Linked DNA regions of Homo sapiens. The protein of the gene in region 5 purifies or fractionates together with the protein of the main gene of each other region. This does not show direct contact. Each region holds a gene or a part of one and is shown on either strand. Other genes may lie near its edges.

The links.
Region 1: the proteins of VAMP7 (region 5) and TBC1D15 purify together in Homo sapiens (co-immunoprecipitation; one large-scale study listed by IntAct). This does not show direct contact.
Region 2: the proteins of VAMP7 (region 5) and ATP6V1A purify together in Homo sapiens (co-immunoprecipitation; one large-scale study listed by IntAct). This does not show direct contact.
Region 3: the proteins of VAMP7 (region 5) and STX17 purify together in Homo sapiens (affinity purification with western blotting; one study listed by BioGRID). This does not show direct contact.
Region 4: the proteins of VAMP7 (region 5) and DIPK2A purify together in Homo sapiens (affinity purification with western blotting; one study listed by BioGRID). This does not show direct contact.

The regions. Positions count from the first base shown.
Region 1 is NC_000012.12:71,912,680-71,916,380, forward strand, and holds part of TBC1D15 (TBC1 domain family member 15), read left to right. Parts: intron 1-400; exon of another isoform or gene 401-453; intron 454-1,146; coding exon 1,147-1,247; intron 1,248-3,701. UniProt on the Homo sapiens protein: Acts as a GTPase activating protein for RAB7A. Does not act on RAB4, RAB5 or RAB6.
Region 2 is NC_000003.12:113,749,842-113,753,542, forward strand, and holds part of ATP6V1A (V-type proton ATPase catalytic subunit A), read left to right. Parts: intron 1-3,701. UniProt on the Homo sapiens protein: Catalytic subunit of the V1 complex of vacuolar(H+)-ATPase (V-ATPase), a multisubunit enzyme composed of a peripheral complex (V1) that hydrolyzes ATP and a membrane integral complex (V0) that translocates protons.
Region 3 is NC_000009.12:99,948,001-99,951,701, forward strand, and holds part of STX17 (syntaxin-17), read left to right. Parts: intron 1-3,059; coding exon 3,060-3,285; intron 3,286-3,701. UniProt on the Homo sapiens protein: SNAREs, soluble N-ethylmaleimide-sensitive factor-attachment protein receptors, are essential proteins for fusion of cellular membranes.
Region 4 is NC_000003.12:143,985,256-143,988,956, forward strand, and holds part of DIPK2A (divergent protein kinase domain 2A isoform a precursor), read left to right. Parts: intron 1-287; coding exon 288-591; intron 592-3,701. UniProt on the Homo sapiens protein: May play a role in cardiomyocyte proliferation through paracrine signaling and activation of the PPI3K-AKT-CDK7 signaling cascade.
Region 5 is NC_000023.11:155,940,266-155,944,391, reverse strand, and holds the end of VAMP7 (vesicle-associated membrane protein 7), read right to left. Parts: intron 2,510-4,126; coding exon 2,441-2,509; coding exon of another isoform or gene 2,253-2,440; 3' UTR 623-2,252; downstream 1-622. UniProt on the Homo sapiens protein: Involved in the targeting and/or fusion of transport vesicles to their target membrane during transport of proteins from the early endosome to the lysosome. Required for heterotypic fusion of late endosomes with lysosomes and homotypic lysosomal fusion.

The DNA.
Region 1 (3,701 bases), on a different chromosome or scaffold from region 5:
ATATTTACTTTTACATGGCTTCAGTGCAGATAGATTTTGGTGAATAAAAATGTAAACTTTGGATTCGCAAATGAAAGACTATTTTCCAGACTTCCCAAGCTACCAATAAAGAAATTTCTACATGATTTTAATAAATACACAAAAGTTACCGAAGTTGAATGATAACGTTTAAGTAAAAAGGCTTAGTATAAGTTCGTGTCCCTTCATTGGTTCAAGAACCTCTTAAGTCTGAAAATTTTTCAAGTCTTGAAAATTGTAAAACAAGGATAATTGAGGGTTTTATAAGAGGAAGTAAAAAAGAAGTTTGACATGTTCAGGTGAAAAAGTAAAACTAACACTTTTTCTTATTTTTAAGTGAGGGATCTGACTCCTTAATTTTCTAGTTTTTCTTTTAATCAAGGGCTCTATTACTGTCACCATTGAGAAATTGTAATAATATCAAGAGACATGTAGGTAAGTGGTCACTTTAGGTACAAAATATTGATTGGGTTAAGCCCAGTTGCTGGCATTGGTTGGGTGTAGAGAGTAACAAAAAAAGAAAGAAGGACGTAGATATGACTATTTAAAAGAGGCTCTTAATTTTGTAACTCCTGTTATGTGAATCTAAAGGTCTGATTGTTAAAGCAGTTGAACCCAAAGTTCTTGTTTTATGTGGCTTACTCATGGTAGTTTGGCATTGCTAACCACTCTGGGCTTGCAACTTTCTTGTTAATTTTTGCAACATTATTCTCGCTTGATTTTTTTCTTTACTTCTCTGACTGGTCTTTCTTAAACCTGTCTTTGAGTGTATACTCTTACATTTGATGTTCCTCTGGATTATCTCTTCACCCCTCTTCTTTCTCATGATGCTCTTGCACATTATTTTTAAAAATATTACCCACTCTTGATAGTGTATCTGCACTGAGACACGTACTGGAAGCTATATATTGTTTGACATCTCAATCTAAAACAACTCATCTTTCTTACTTATGACTAGAGTTCCTCCTCTTCATTTATATTCTTTTCTTGGTGAACATCAGTGTCTACCAATTTCTAAATGCAAAGGAGAAAGATACAATTTTAAGCGAAATGGTGGTGATATGCACAACTTGCAGAAGGTTACATAAAACTTGGGTTTTCAGAGATGATTTTTTCTTTTCTTTTTAGGATATGTTCAAGGAATGAGTGATTTACTTTCCCCTCTTTTATATGTGATGGAAAATGAAGTGGATGCCTTTTGGTGCTTTGCCTCTTACATGGACCAAATGGTAAGAACAGAGATTCCTTCCATTAAACTGATTTTTAAAATTTTAGTTGTATAATTTTATAGTATAAGGTTGATTTTTATATTTAGCCAACTATGATGGAACTTAAAAAAATTACCTCATGCCTTTTGTTACTTTTTCTTTTTAGTAGCCTTTCAAGGGCTTAGAAATACTGGTGGTATTTTTAATACAGGAAATAGTTTGTGCCTGTAGTATAGGAATAATCAGGATTTAATATCAGTAAATGCTTATTTTCTACTAAAGAGCCATGTGTCATTACAGAATATTGATAAAATAGATGAATTCAATTTTGTGGAATAGTTGAACTTTAATATCATCTGTTTCAGAGATAAAGCTTAGTCATGCCAAGTAATATCCTTACCTTTTGTGAAGATTTTGAATTTTGTCATTATAGTAACTGATTTTTCTCCAGATGTGTTTGAACTATTTGTAACTCTGACACTTTCTTAGGAATTCATTGTTATTTTCCCAGAAGTATGTGATTATTAGAATTGAACTGTCTATATATACATGTTAGTACAAAGAACATTTTATCTATTATCATTGTTAAATCTTTGAGACAGAGTTCTAGGATAATAGTGCAGAGAATATTGACAGGAAAATAAAAGAAAAGTCTCTTCAAGCAATCTCAGAAAAATAAAAGCAGAAGGGGTGAGACTAGATAAAGGCAGATGAAGTCCAAAGACCTGACTACATAGAGGTTGCTGTGTTTTTTCAAAATAACACTAACATACTGGATGCTGGGCCTTTATGTTGGATATTGAAATGGCTGGCTTGCTTGCAAGGGATAAACATTTTGAATCTAACCATCTGAAATATTTTCCTGTAATACAGGGTTTAACTCAGAGTTTCTGGGATACAAATGTGAAATTTGGAAGTGGTACCCTTCTCCTTTTTTCTTTACTTCTATTCTTTCCCTTTTGCTTGCCTATTTTTCTTTCTCCTTCAAATTTTCCCTGCTTGTGGCTATTTCCCCAAATCTCTTGTCCATAGATTCAACTTGTTTTTGCTTCTTTCAGTTTTTTTCTAAATGTATACTTGGTAAGATTTGATAGATTTAAAATGTTCTTTTACATTAAATTCATGAATATTCAAATTGGTTTTTTGCCATAAATTAATTTTTTTTGACTATTTGGAAGGATTATCAATGCAGTAATTTGGTAATGTCATAGTTTGTCTTCCTTCCTTTTTTGATTGATTTGTCTACCTTCTTAGTTCCATTTACTCCCAAGTGCTCTAGAAACCTGAGGCATTTGTTATAAAGGTCTGTACAGCTGATACTAATTACATAAAAACTGTTGTCTGCCTTCCTTGTGTTTTTGTTGTTTATCCTCTTTTCACCAGAGCTAGTATGTTCCTTGATAAAAGGGATTATATCTTGTTTCACTGGTAGCATACCAGAATTTTCCTAATGCCTGACATGAGGTTGTTCAACGGGTTTTTGTAGAATAAACATGTGAATCTTTCCCCAGTGATTAGTTTAAATTGCTATAGTAGATATTCTAAAAAAAAAAAAAAAAACACAACTAAGATGAACATACTGCATTTAGTATCATGCAATAAGTTTTCAATAAAACTAATCCAATATTGGCATGTAAATATATATTGACATATAATGCCACATACACACATGCATACAGACGTGTGTATATAGGTCTCATATGTAAAGACTACCTTCTGAACATGTGTAATAAACACTTTACAGTCCGTCATTTTTTGTGTATGAAGGTTCAGTTTCTTTGTTCTGTCATTTTCACAGTAAATGCTCTCTGTGTTTGCCTTTTCCATTAAGGATGTTCTGGGGATTTTTCTAGTCTTTATTCTAAAAAAGATATCTTATGATTATGTTGTCTGCTAACATCTTTTCTTTCATAATATTTGAATGAGAGGGAAATATATGGCAATCAAAATAACCTGTATGATTGTTTTTCACTGCATTGCCCTTGTTTGATGTCCCTAAATCTGTGCTGCTGTTTCTTGATTCTGTGTTTCTGTTTTATAGCTTTACTTCATGTAAGTTTGTACTACCTTTGTGGTGGCTGAACCTAACGTCTGTAAATTTACTTTTGTTGATGTTTACTTGCATCTAATGTAGGTCTAGGCATAGACTTTGTCTATTATCATGGAAATACAAAGTACAAGTGATCTGATGAACTTTGTTATACCCATCATCCATTTTGCCATATAGTTTTAATTCCTTTCTCCTCTCCATCTCCCCCTCCCCTGCCCCATACAGACACATTTATTTACAGACACATTTGAAGCCCTTTGTATATCCATTGTTGATCCCACTCTCCCTTCTCCAGGAGTAACCACTTTTTCGAATATGGTGTCTGTCATTATGGACATGTTTCTTTTTTACAGCAGAGTGGGTAGCAAATGTCTATGCCATGTTGGTATTCCCAGATCAGCTCTAGTCTTTGACTGTGTCACAGC
Region 2 (3,701 bases), on a different chromosome or scaffold from region 5:
GCTTTTAAATATAAACTGGTAATAACCTTCCAAATTCATGGTCAATACAATAGATAAAAACCTCAGATGGACTTTATTAATGCTGAGACCAACTTATTTTCACAGCATGTTTGTTTACTAATAAGTATGGTTATCATCAAAATATGGGAGAGAAGGGAAGAGGAATGAATCGTACTAAATGAAAAAGTGGCTCTGCGTGATCTATAAGTGGACTAGCACTAGACTAAAAGTCAGAGGATCTTCATTCAGCTCTGCCACTTTAGTTATATGTCCTTTTACGTAATGCTGGGGAGGGGTTCAGGTTTGATACTTAGGAACCTTCCTATGACATAAACCCTAGGTAATCTATGTGAAAATATCTTAAAAACTAAGTGGTGTCTGTAATCCCAGTGCTTTGGGAGGCCAAGGCGGGCAGATCACAACGTCAGGAGATCGAGACCATCCTGGCTAACACGGTGAAACCCTGTCTTTACTTAAAAAAATTAAAAAAATTAGCCAGGCATGGCGGCACGCGCCTGTAGTGCCAGCTACTCAGGAGGCTGAGGCAGGAGAATCACTTGAACCCGACAGGTGGAGGTTGCAGTGAGCCAAGATCACACCACTGCGCTCCAGCCTGGGCAACAGAGTGAGACTCCATCTCAAAAAAAACAAAAACAAAAACAAAAAAAACTAAGTGGTGTGTAAAATGGTAAAGCAGTGTAGCTCAGACTTTACATGAATTGATTTCCCAGTCATAGAGACCTAGTTGAAGTTCTGGCCCTACCACTTAATAACTGTGTGACTTTGGACAGTGTACTTAAGTAAGGTTAAGTTTTCTCACGTTTAAATCTATAGATGGTGCTATTAAGTTAGATCATGAATGTAAAATGCCTAGAACATATTTTGTAAAAAAAATTTTTAATTAATTTTACTGATAACTACTTTGATTTTATATACTGAATTTCTAAAGACTTAAGACAACCCACAGAATTGACTGATGTCCCTGTGAGCAGCAGGTTTGGGGCATGAAGAAGAGAGTAGAATTTGAAAAGAAGCTATTACCCAAAAAATGGGGGAACAAGAAAAGTGTACTTGTAGCAAAGATTCTAAAACAGATTTATTAATTTTATCTGAAAAATATCAAGATAAAGTCCCTTATTTGGGCAACTGCAGTGTCTTAATATTTTCTATATAAAGATTTTCCAAAGCTTGTAATCATTAATGTATGGAATAAATTTAAGGAGGCAGTTCTTCAATTTTGAAGTTTTTATTCCTGCAATGGATTATAGAAGTATATTAAAATTGTACAGATTGTAGAGCAGGGACTTTTGAGTTAATGCTTATAAGCTTAAAAATTTTGTCTTTTTAAAAAAATTAAGTGTTTTTATATCTTATTTTTATCCTTATATGAAATAGACAAAGAAATGTAGAGAACATAATGGAGACATAAACTAGAGTAAAATTCTTCCCTTCTTAAATTCATGATTCACAAGGGTTAGTAGTTTTGCAATGGAAAATATCAGCAAATTAAACAGTAAGTATAGCTATCATGAGTTTATGAATCACTTTATTCCTGAAAAAAAAAATTACTCATTTGTCTTAAGGAAAGATTTTATTAAGTTTATTGACTTTTCCTTAATGTTGATTGTCTATTATAACAAATGGATTTATTGATTTAGGAATGAATTTATTCTTTATACTAAGTAACTTTATTTTAAATAAATGAAATGTGAGCAATAAAAATGTTTTCCATATAATTTCTGAAGAGAATATTAGTTTTGCTATTCTCTTTTTTCCCTATGGTGAAATGATAGCGACTTTGGTTTTTATAAGTGTATTCATTTATATTTAGTATATACATATTATGTATATACTATATATAGAGTAAATATTTGTAGTATATAAAGTACGCAATGTGTGTGTATGTATATATAAAGACAGCTGAAGTGGTTGTGTATCTTCGTAGTAACATATTTATTTTTACCTGAAACTACTGAAGTGATCTTTAGAATAATGATTTATTTACATTTGAAACTCCTCTTTCTGTATATTTCTTTGTAGTTAGCTCTAGTTAATAAATTTACAACTGTGATTAGCTGTTTTTAAAAATTAATGGTATATCATAAGTATTTTCAGATTTAAATTTTAGAAGGAAACACTTTCTTATATCTTAAGGTTTTAAAAATCACTATTATTTTTGGTATTATTATGACTAACAACAAAAATTTCAGTTTTGGATCTTAATGCTATCTGTTGAAACTGTTCTCTTGGTAAGCCTTTAAAAAAATTTTATCTGCAACATGCCACATTTTGTTTCTTTTCTGAAAAATAATTAAGCTTATTTCACTGAAAATAAAATGGGTGGTATATGATATGATATAGAAGAGTTTCAGATGTGCTTGAGCAATGAAAAGCAACCAGACTTTATAAGTTTTTAGTTCTTAGTTTAATTTTTTTAATGTTTAAAGGTACAATAGAGAAGACTAATTGAATTGGAAAATACCTTTAAAATTGAAAAAAGAGCATATGTATAATAATAATAGTATATACATATGGAAAAAGTTGTAAGGAAATGCATCAAAATAAGTAATTATCTCTAGATTGATGCATTAAAGAAAAAATTAAAATTTATTACTATACCTTCTGTATATTTGAATTCATAATGTCAGTAGGCATTGCAAAATATTTCTTAATTTGATATGGAAAATTAAGGCACCTAAATAATTCTTTCATCTTAACTACTTGGATATCTTAAGTGAAAATGTTTTGTCTCATCCAGGTAGCTGAGTAAGTTATTTAATTTTATAGGTGTGTAAATATATTTTTAATTTTAAGTATATAAGTGCAGCAGAATTTTAAAAAGCAGAGTAAATCTCAGTATATAAGATAATTTACCACATTTCAAAGGGATAATTCAATCCAATGGTGAAAAAGGGCACATATATATCATAAATGTTAACTGATACAACTTGCTCATCTAGAAGAAAATATAATTGATCCAATACATTGCAACAGATGCAAAAACTGATTTCAGATGGATTAGAGGCTTAAATGTAAACAATAAAATATTTAAGATATTAATCTCCTAAATTTCCTTTATACAAACAATCCAGATGTAGTTTTTTAAACCAAGATAGGAAACCTAAAAGTCATAAAAGTATGGATAGACACATGAGACTGCATGGAAACGAAGGATTCTTTAGTGGCAAAAATAAAGGACCAAAGACAAAATCAGGCGGAAAAAAAGGCTTGAGATATATGTAACAGATGAGTTAACCATTGAAAGAACTCTTTCCAATTAAGAAAAAGTTCACCCAGTAAAAATATGGATAAAACATGTCACCAGAAGTTCACAGAAGAGAAATCCAAACATTCAACAAACAGTAAAGGATGTGTAACCTTACTAGTAATCAATATACTAACAATGAAATATTATTTCTCTGACAAGCAAAAATTAAGTGGTAAACCTACTGCTAGCAGGGATATGTGGAGAAGGATTATCTCATAAAATGCTAGCGGAGATGTGAAGTGTTAGAGTTTTTCCTAGTAAACAATCAAGCAACATCAGTTAATACTGAGAATACATGTATTTTCCACCCATCAGTCTAACTCCATGTAATCTTTTCCTTAGAAATAAAAGCACCAGTAAGAGTTTACAGGAGTGTTAGCTGCAACAGTGTTTCAATTTTCAATGTTAGTAGTGGCAAAAAACGTGGAAACAA
Region 3 (3,701 bases), on a different chromosome or scaffold from region 5:
TGAAGTAGCCATTAGTGGGAAGGTTAGTCTGAATCACCTAGCCTGCTGTTTTCAGAAGCAGAAACACCTGACTTTATGTTCTTCATATATGGTTTTACCATCCTGTTCCCTCTGTTTGATTTTAGAGAGATTCCCTAGTTGCCCTATCCAATGTAGTAGCTCCTAACTACATGTGACTGTTGAGCACTTAAAATGTAGCCAGTTTGAACTGAGATGTGCTGTGAATGTAAAATATATACCAGATTTCTAAGACTTACTACAAATAAAACAATGTAAAAGATTTTAAGTTTTATAATTGCATATTAAAATAGTATTTTAGCTATATTAGGTTAAATAAAATATTATTAAAATTAATTTCCCTTGTTTTTACTTTTTTAATGTAATTTAAAAAATTTTTAAATTACATATGTGGCTTGTGTGTGTGATTTGCATTATGTTTGTGTTGGATGGTGTTTGCTATGTAATAAAGTAGTTAGAACACAAGATCTGTGGTCTGGATTTGATTCTTGCCTATACTATTTACTAGCAGTGTAATCCTGGGCTACTTTTTGAACTTCTTGCTTTAATTTTCTCTTCTATAAAATGAGAATAATAGTAATATCCATTTCAAAGATATATTGTGAGGGGAAGATAAAAGACGTAAAGCTGTTAGCACAATCGATAACTTTAAGTGTTGATTAAAATTTAGCCACTATTTATGTTTTTGTTATCATTGTTGCTGTTATTATAGTATCAGATTTTATACTTCAGTGGGTTTTTTCTTTCTCTCCCTCAAAATTTTCCACATTACTCATAGTAATAGAGTTCTTAGCTGGATACTGTAATTTGACTGGGGACAGACATATGTACAAATTACATAAGTGAGGAAGGTGTCACAAACAAATGCTCATTAAGTTTGGCTGTAGAAAATTTTTAATGCTTCTCCAAGATAATATTACCTAAAATATTTCTGTAGACTGGTAACTATATAACCAAGCTTTATAATTATGGTCCAGAAAGGAGTCACATAGCCAGGAAATGGTGGTGTGTTGGAAACAGTATTGTTCTGGGACTTGAGGCCTGGGCTGTAGTCCAAATTCTGCCACTGTGTTTGTCTAGACTCCAGTTTCCTTATTGTAAAATTGTGAGGTTGTATTAGATGCTCACTTATGCCCCCTTTAAGGTTATATAATTTTAACATATTAATACCTACATTTCACATATTTTGAATCTACAGTTTAATTATCCTTAGGTTTTTCAGCTCATATTAGAATGGTAAGAGACTGAAGATAAGGTTACAGGAAGTATAGAGTCATGGTAAGATAGAGGCACAATTTTTTCACCCAGAAAAATCTTACAAGATGCTTTAGGTTGTAACTAAACTATTTTTTTTTCTAGAATTGACTTTAATTTTACTACAGTAAAATGGAAACTTTAGATTGTATTATATTAAGATACTACATAGATAGACATTATTATTATAGTTTAGTGGAAAGATTGCTGGCCCTATCGGAATATCTGGGTTTTAACCCCAGTTTTGCCACTAGATAACTTAAGTAAATCCTAAACAGGTTTTTTTTTGTTTGCTTTTTCCATATGTAATAATTTGGACTGTAATAATGTAACACCTCACTCAGAGTATGCACTTGAAAAATTAATTCTTACTTAACTGGTCTGTCTACTGTGTAGGATTTGCATTAATATTGTGAAAACACTTTAGGGGAAAATAATTTAAAATATATGAATAGACATATAACTTTTCTTACTTTGATTATTTTTGCAAATTTGTTCTATTTAATCTTAAAGGGATTGTTTCTTTGTTTTCAAAGTATAGACCATTGAGAAAGAGGGAAAGCTCCCCAGTATATTTTATGAAGTTAGCACAACCTTAAACCTGTTAAAGCAAATTTAAACCTAGTAAAGATAGTATAAATACACAAACTGTGTACATGCACACATGTATACACACACACACACACACACACACTCCTATGTGCTAAAGTTTCAAATAAAATACTAGCAAATGAATTCAGCATTGTATTTAAAAATTATATATATTGACTAGAAAGGCTTTATCCCAGGAATATAAAGATGACTCTACACTACAAAATCTGTACATAATTCATTATAGCAACATATTAGAGGTAAATTTATAACTAAGCCAGTAGGTATTTCTCAAAAAGAAGGAAAATCATTTGATAAAAATCTAACAACTTCATTCATAGGGAAGTGCAGAGTAAAGCAACAGTGAGATGACATGCAGGACTGGCAGCATGTGAAGAAATAGGCAATCATACCTTGATGCTAGTGTGAAGTGTTACTGCTTTTTGGGAAAAAAACAACAATAGCTTCTGAAATAAAAATGCACATTATCATTTGAATATTCCTGTTTCTGGGAGTCTTTCCTACACAAAATAATATATTAATATTAGTGTATACTATAATGTTAATATATACTAATATAGTAAATTAGGACTTATATGCAGGGATATTTGTTTCATAGTTTGTAATAACTAAAAATTAGGAACAACATGAATGTTGATCACCGAAGGAGTGACTGAGTAAATTATTCTACACTACACCGTGGAATATAGTGTAACCATTGAGCAGGAGGGATAATATTGTTGAGTATGGAATGGCAAATTATAGATTACTGTGTATAATGTAATCCATTTTTTAATAAAAAGGGAGAAGCCTTATATATGTTAAATGTGTGCATGAGCCGTGAGAAATGTGTGGGAGTATTGAGTTAAGAGGGGGTGGGATAGGTGAAGTGAGAATATCATTTTTATTTCATATGCTTCTGTAGTGTTTGATTTATTGTGAAGAGCATTTATTTTTGTATAACCACATTTAATGAAGGAAAAATGCTAAATAAATTCAAAGTATGAGCATGTGGGTTCCAAAGATGCTGCATTTGGCCAGCCAGAGACATGGAAAATGTAAAAGTATTATGCTACACCTTCTATTGTGGAGATATTTGTTATAATTTCCATCCACAACTATTATAACATTACTTCTGAAAAGAAAGATATCTTATACTAAGAAATGGTGGCATTAATGATTTTTTTCTTTTATAGCAACTCCGATCCAATATCCGAGAAATTGAGAAACTTTGTTTGAAAGTCCGAAAGGATGACCTAGTACTTCTGAAGAGAATGATAGATCCTGTTAAAGAAGAAGCATCAGCAGCAACAGCAGAATTTCTCCAACTCCATTTGGAATCTGTAGAAGAACTTAAGAAGCAATTTAATGATGAAGAAACTTTGCTACAGCCTCCTTTGACCAGATCCATGACTGTTGGTGGTAATGTATTGTGCTAAGTCTTATTCTCAGTCACAGTAGTGCAGTTAATTAAAGATCACCTCCTTGAGTAGATACTGAATTATCTATAGGTCTTCAGAGACCATTCACTATCCCAATATGCTGAATCCTTGGACCCTGATCAGTGTTCCTGGAAATGTGTACCCTGGATATTTTGCAGAATAAAAAATTTAAGGCTATGCTTATGGAGTGGGACTTCAGGGAAAGTACCCGTTTGTCTATTTATTGAAGAGAAATTTAAATATATTTCCTAAGGATAATGTCATTCTTGTCTGCAAAGTACTCTTTACTCCTTTCCAGGTGCAGGGGTGACCTCTTCAGGCATGCTTTTTTTTCTTAAGCATTCTGATTTTCAGAGGGGATGTTAGATCTATCTTTCAGCCAAGTTCTCTGAATAA
Region 4 (3,701 bases), on a different chromosome or scaffold from region 5:
AGACAGTGTCTTCCCTCTTATTGATCATTTTGGTTCTTAGATTTTGATAAGCAAGACTTGTCATCCTATTTTAGCTTTATAATGTAAAGTTCTCTATTTAAATTTTTTTCAGGTCCATAGTACTGGTATGAGTTAGGAAAAAATGAAGTTAATCTCTAATAAACTGTTGAATGTAATAAGAAAATCCAAAGTCATTCCTAGTAGCAATCTCTACTGAAAGGATCTGAGGATAGACCTAGGATATTTTCATCAGAATCTCTTGTAATATTAAGATAATTCTTTTGTAGAGTTTTCCGTCTGATGAAGGTTGGCCATTTGCAAAGTATCTTGGAGCTTGTGGAAGAATGGTGGCTGTAAATTATGTTGGAGAAGAACTGTGGAGTTACTTTAATGCGCCATGGGAAAAACGAGTTGACCTCGCTTGGCAATTAATGGAAATAGCAGAACAGCTTACAAACAATGACTTTGAATTTGCACTCTACCTCCTGGACGTCAGCTTTGACAATTTTGCAGTTGGTCCTAGAGATGGGAAGGTAATCATTGTGGATGCTGAAAATGTTTTGGTTGCTGACAAAAGATTAATTAGACAAAGTAAGTATATAATTTTAGATTTTTTTCTACTCATTTTTTCCTATGTCAAAATAATGTTTATACTTGTATGAAATGAGCCTTGAATTTCCTCCTTAGATGGCAACTTTAAGCGTCTTTCTTTGCTTTATATGACCACTGTCAATAAACAAATACAGATACTCTTTGACTTACTGGGGGTTACATCTTGATAAACCCGGTGTCAGTTGAAAATATTGTTATTTGAAATATATCTAACCTACGGGACATCATAGCTTAGTCTTGCCTACCTTAGACATACTCAGAACACTTACATTAGTCTAAAGTTGGGGGAAATTGTGTAAAACAAAGCCTATTTATAATAAACTGTTGAATATAATTATATTCATGTAATATATTGAATTCTGTACTGAAAGTGAAAAACAGAATGGTTGTATGGGTTCTTGAAATATGGTTTGTACTTTATTTTTAACCATTTTGATGATCCCTGGCACTGCAGCTCTGAGTTTGGTTTGACATTCTGATTATTACATCTCACCCAAAACTTTGCTCTCCATTTACTTTTGAGTTCTTCATGGGATAGATGAGTAGTGTCTGAAGTGTTTTGAAAATTAAATGCCGGCCGGGTGCGGTGGCTTACGCCTGTAATCCCAGCACTTTGGGAGGCCGAGGCGGGCGGATCACGAGGTCAGGAGATCGAGACCATCCTGGCTAACACGGTGAAACCCCGTCTCTACTAAAAATACAAAAAATTAGCCGGGCGAGGTGGCGGGCGCCTGTAGTCCTAGCTACTCGGGAGGCTGAGGCAGGAGAATGGCGTGAACCCCAGGGGGCGGAGCCTGCAGTGAGCCGAGATTGCGCCACTGCACTCCAGCCTGGGCAACAGCGAGACTCCGTCTCAAAAAAAAAAAAAAAAAAAGAAAATTAAAGAAAATTAAATGCCATAGAAGTTGTAAAGCATCAAGAACAAAGCCTGTAGGTCTAGAACCAATTCAGTTAGCAAAACCAAAGGGTTGTTGCTCCATGGTGAGGGTTTTATATTTTTTAATCCCCTCTTTCCCCCTGATAAAAGTAATATGAGTATCTTTTGACAAACAAAGGCTGAAAATTTACGGCACCTGGGGAAAAGTTTATGTGACAGCCATATATTAGGTTGACATTTACTTTTTGCATGATCTTGGCATGATCCTATTAAATACTTGATTTTTCCCACTCCCTTTTTCAGATTTTATACTTACCAGACCACTTTTCTGATTATTTCTTGACTTGCCATGTAGATCCTCCTACAGGAAGTGAACACCCTGCTGGAGTATTCTACTCTCTATTTACCTCTTCCTACATCTGTGAATATTGTAGCAGCGTATACTATTCTTTCTTTTTTAAAGTGTACACAAGCAGGTGGTTTTTAGTATATTCATAGAGTTGTGCAATTTTCCTAAGCTTAAAAAAATTATTTCAGTGTTTATAACAATAATTTTTTATAATTCATTTTATGCAGACATTCCTGGAATAATTATTACTAATTCCTGACCTTAGATGAATCCAGCCATATAGCTTCTGTATTCTTCCATTTCATACAGTGAGCATTGCTCTAGTGCTGCTTTAACTGTGGTCATTTCTTTTCAAATGTCTCATGGGTCCTCTAAATAGTCACTTTGCAAAAGTCTCTGTCTGTTCATTTACTCTCTTTTCTTTCCACTTTCTAGTAAATGACCTTTATTTTATTTCTTCACAGGGAAATTGAGATTTTGCTGTGGCAACTCCCCCAGTGTCCTTTATCATCTAAACCTCATTAAAACAGCAACAGATAGATTCTTCTTTGAGAACTTGTTACATCAGTTATCTTCTTCAGTGTCCCACCTCCTTCCTTTAATATCCAACTTCTCTTGCCTTCCTATAAAAAGTATATATAAGACTCTCTTCTGCTTCTCCTTGCTTGTCCACTGTTTTTAAAAGTATTTATTGCCTTTCTGCTTCCTCAGCCTCTATTCATTCCTTAGTCCATTAAAACCTGACGTAGACCTCTGCCTTGCCATTAGCAACCACCTAATTGGCAAATTTGTGAAGTGATTGTGACTAGTATCAACTTCTCGAAGTTGTTTCCTCCTTTGGAATAGTAACCTTCCTTCTTTTGGAATAGTAACCTTCAAAAAACATTAACTTACTACTCCTTTGCTTAAATGGTTCTAATGACTTCCCATTGTTCTGGAAGTAAAATCCAAACACCTTAAAGCCAGGGCATAATCTGTAATCTGTGTGACTTGGCCCTCTTCTGATCCTTTTTTTTTTTTCTTTTTTGAGACAGGGTCTCTGTCACCCAGGCTGGAGTGCAGTGGTGTGATCACGGCTCACTGCAGCCTTGACCTCCCTGGCTCAAGTGATCTTCCTGCCTCAGCATCCCAAGTAGCTGGGACTACAGGCACATACCACCATGCCTGGCTAATTTTTAAATTTTTTGTAGAGGGTGGGATCTCGCTGTGTTGCCTAGACTGGTCTCAAACTTGTGGGCTTAAGCAGTCCTCCCACCTTGGCCTCTCAAAGTGCTGGGATTACAGATGTGAGCCACCCCGCCCAGCCTGTGTATATATGTGTTTTTCGAGTGCTTCATTTTTAATACCCCTCCATCTATTGCCCTTGGTGCTTCTGCTACAATGGCCTCTTGTTTTCCTGAATGAATCGGCCCACTTCTGGGCATTCCCAGTTTCCTCTTCCAAAAATGTCTCTTCCTTCTTCCCTATACAGCTAGCTATTTGTTTTTCAAGCCTTGACTCCTTCAAGTACATGTGTGCTTATGTGTTCTCAATTTGCCTAATATCCCTCTTACCTCAAAATCATAAGTTTCAAGTCTAGTTCTAGTTGTACATATGACATGCCCACCTAATACCTTATAGCTCCTTTATATTTATTTTGTTTATATATAAAATATTGACACTATTATGGCAATTGTACATACCTTGTCATCCAATTAGAACCTTAAACTTTACCCATATACTTAATTATTTTTGCCTGAAATGTTTCTCCAATCTAGCTTTTCATTCTGGGCCATCTATAGTTGCTCTCATGATCTTAATCCTTCCAATCTTCAGCCCAGAGTTATCTTTCTATAAAATAAATTATGGTCGTGATTACACAAG
Region 5 (4,126 bases):
TCAGTTGAAATCTGGATAAAACCTAGGGAGAACTTAAATAGGCTGTTTTTAAGTTATTGCAGCCTGTACAAAAATATATTCTATACCTGACTTTAGCCACCTTACGTTCAGAGGTCCCAAGTGACTGATTATTTTGTTGTGACCTATCTATTTGTATATTTGATTTGTGCCTGTTTTTCTTTTATTTCTGTTTAGGTACCCTGTTTGCTATAATGAATTATTCCCTCCCACCATTATGCCTTCCGCTTGAGTCTCTTTCAGAACCAGTCATTTAACTTTAGATAGAAAGATTTTTCAGAATTGTGCTAAACTGGATGAAAATCCCTGGGGTTCTTTTTCAGTTCTGTCTAAATCATGCACTCAGGACGATAGTTGTGAAGGCTGTGTGATCATCTCAGAATCTTTCATTGGTTTCAGCATGGGCTATATATTTTTTAAGTTCATTTGTGTCTTTTGAAGAAATTCTACACACCTGAGACTATGCTACAGATCTTTACTGGAAGTCTCCAGGTAACACTTCTTAATATATTTTCCGCATAAGTAAAATACTTTTGTTCTGTAAACAATGGCAAATGTCATCAGAAGAAATTAGGTTCCAGAAAGAACTTCTAAAACAAGCAAATCATTGTATTACTCTTAAATTTTATTAACATCTTCAGTTTGTGCGTCATTTAAAATGAGACATGTGCTTTAAAAAGCATTCTTATACATAAATAGACCAAGGAACAGTTAGGTAATTGATCCCTAAAACATGCACATCAATTTTATTCAGGTGTGTATAAGAAAGGGAAATAAGCTTTAAACCTTTTTCTTTGGATTAAAAACATTTGGAAATTATTCAGGAATGCCAAATGTTTTTCTGGAACAGATGTATTTTCCAATAGGAAATACTGATGCAATTAAGAGGCATTAGTGTTGATAAAGAAGACTGGAAAAACGTTTGTGCTATGCTAGATAAACAAGAAAAGAGTTCAAGTGGGCCTAAGATCTATGTCAAATAAATGAATCAGGTAGCATGAATTGAAAGGTTTGGATAGAAGAACAGGTACCATGAGCCAGATTATGGGACACATATATGTTCAAGGCACATGACTAGGCTAAACAGGTGGCTAGATTCTACAGACTAATTTGTTCATTCATTGAGAAAGTGTAAAATGTAATATAATTTCAATTTAATGGCACTTATTGATAAATAAATGCAATTGGATCTAGGGTAGAAAATGTCTTCCTTTCAGATACACACCAGAAATGCATACTAGATAACAGATGCCAGTAGCGATATGATTACAGTCCAATTTTCTTACACTGCAGTTAAATGGTTGTTAAACTGTTTTGTATTAATTCTATATGTCATACTGTCTATTCTCTTTCAAGTTTCACAAAAGAATTCATCAAAACTAGGCAGATTTAAGAATTTATTTAACCACAAAGAATGCTCAAAACTATTATTCAACAGGAATCAAGCCCAAACCCTGGAGTTGACTGCTGACCGTATTCGGTTTGGGCTTTTCCCAGAATGGAAACACTTTTCCCACACTACCTCCCTTTGCACAGCTAAAATGCTAGCATATCCACTGTGGTTCCCTTCTTTTTCTTTGGCAAGTCAGAGGAATTTACCTCCCCACCCCCTCTACTACATATTCTATTAGCGACACGATTGCCCTAAATATTCACAGAAGAAAAAGGAACACATTTAAAAAACTGCAACTTTCAACAATATTTAAACCTTCATCTTCTCAAATCAACTGCAATGGGAAAACAGAAGATATCAAGCTATCCACTGTATTGTGAATGATCAGCACACTGAACTTTATTCCTGAAAGTCAATATTAGGAGGACAAGGATAATTCTGTGTGCTTCTAATGGGCTAGCAAAATGTTCCCCATCTAACTGAAATAAGAATGTTTCATACTTTACTTGTCTGAGCTCTTAGAAGGAAGCAGCACCAACATCATTACAATTCCCCAAATAACAACTATTATCCATTTATATTGTTTTGAAGCACCTAAAACTTCTCAATAACAAAAGACATTAAGATGAGATGTTAGCAATACTGTCTCTTGAATACTTTTGTGTGCACATACAAAGTTTCTCCATAGTTTTAGTAGATAGCTCATAAGACTAGCGGCGACAGCTTTGAGCAATTAAAAACAAAAATGTTTCTCTAAATAGATGACACTAGTTAACAAACCAAAGAAATAAACAAAAGCCTTTTTAAGGCTACTGCTGCAATGAATGGTTCAATCTGAAGTTCACAGGAATAAACTGGTAGATAAGACAAAGATAAACCTGGAGGCATGGAACAAGATTTTAAAAAGTGAGAAGAGGGTTGAAGAGACTGGCAGATACCATCTGTCAGTATGTGAAAGGCTTGAGTCACATGGATTGCTTTTAACTCCTTGTTCTCTCATATCCTTGGTTAATGGTAACTTCTTCTTTCCTATTTCTTCACACAGCTTGGCCATGTAAATCCACCACAGAGAGGTGAAACAATGATATAGATGAACACCTGGAGGGACGAGGAGAGCAATTTTATTTTCTTGAATCAATCATATTATTCTAAATAATATATATAGGAAAGTAGAGCCTTATTAAGAAATACTTCTGATTCCATTAGAGTAGCAGTTATGTAGTAATGGAACACACTAAACAAGTATTTTCCAAGACAGAAGTGTAGTTAACATTGTCGTTTTTGGTATAACTCACACCCACTTGAACTCTAGCGTTTCCTTCAGTGGGAGAGAAAGCAGTGGGGTTGTTGCTCTTCACTGGTAACTCGGCAGAATCAAGGCTAAATGAGCAACTCATACTGATGTGTCATTAACAAGTCATAAAAAAATCACAAATAACCATAATTCTCCTGAAGTATGGTTTCATTAATTATATTTTTAGGTTTTGCACATGAATTTTATTTTTGATTAATATAAGAATATATTTTAAAAGCCTGAGTAGAAGGCTTTCATCTATATCACTTATGAGCAAGAACACTGCTACGAACTGTTCAGTGGATAATGACACAATAATTACGATGACCAAAACAATGAAAAGCAGATGATGTAAGTAACACTGCAAAAATACTGGTGCTATTACAGATGTGTTTGCTTTTTAATTCTAGATTATAATTTTAAATTATATTATAAAAGTCACTACTTGTTCACATTATTATATCACAAAAAATAGATTTTAAACATTAGGTTCACTGCATTAGTCACTTTATTTTATTTATTTTTTATTTTTTATTTTTGTAGAGATAGGGTGTCACTATGTTGACCAGGCTGGCTTCAAACTCTTGGCCTCAAGCAATCCTCCTGCCTCAGCTTCCCAAAGTGCTGGGATTACAGGCATAAGCCCCTATGCCTGGCTTTATTTTGCTTTAAATTACAACTTTTTGAGATCTTTAAGTGACTGATTTCATTATTTGCAAGCTTGGAAAAGGATGCATTGATGAATTGCATGCCCTTTGCTCCAAAAGTGAGCAAAGCATTTTGCCTTGTAGGGAACTATAAATATTGCCAGGGTTGGGGGGCAGATTACAGCAAATTCTGTTTATTAATGAATAGGTTGAACTTCTGACATCATATTCACACATACACACACATACTCACACATACACATGCCACAAATGTAAAGTTTACCAACTTGATGTAAAGTTGACTATTTGTCACAGCTGTAATATAAGGATTTTTCAAGCTGAAGTACATCTCGTTAGGTGACAACACCTTTTCGCAAAGATTGATATTGCATTTAGAGCTGTGCTCTGCATGTAATAAGTAATCAGTAAATATATTCTGAATTTAACAATTCAGCTGCACAAATCAACCTAAACTCCCAGACCAAATAATAAGTAAGAAGCTAAGCTCAGGAGCCTAAAATGTGATATTAGAAAGAGAAACCTGAGCAAGGAACCATTCAAGGCCATGACAATTACTTCCAGTATAAAATCTACAGATCTATGACTGCTCTTCTCTTTTAGATAAATCCAGCTGTCTAAGGCAGAGGACCCTCAAGCTGTGGTAGAGGAGAAGCAGGGTCAGAGTTATCTGCTTGGAGGTAACTTTGGGCTTCTGGACATGACTGGAGGATGGGGAGGAAAGGCAACTTTATCTGACCATGAACAGGGTAAAGC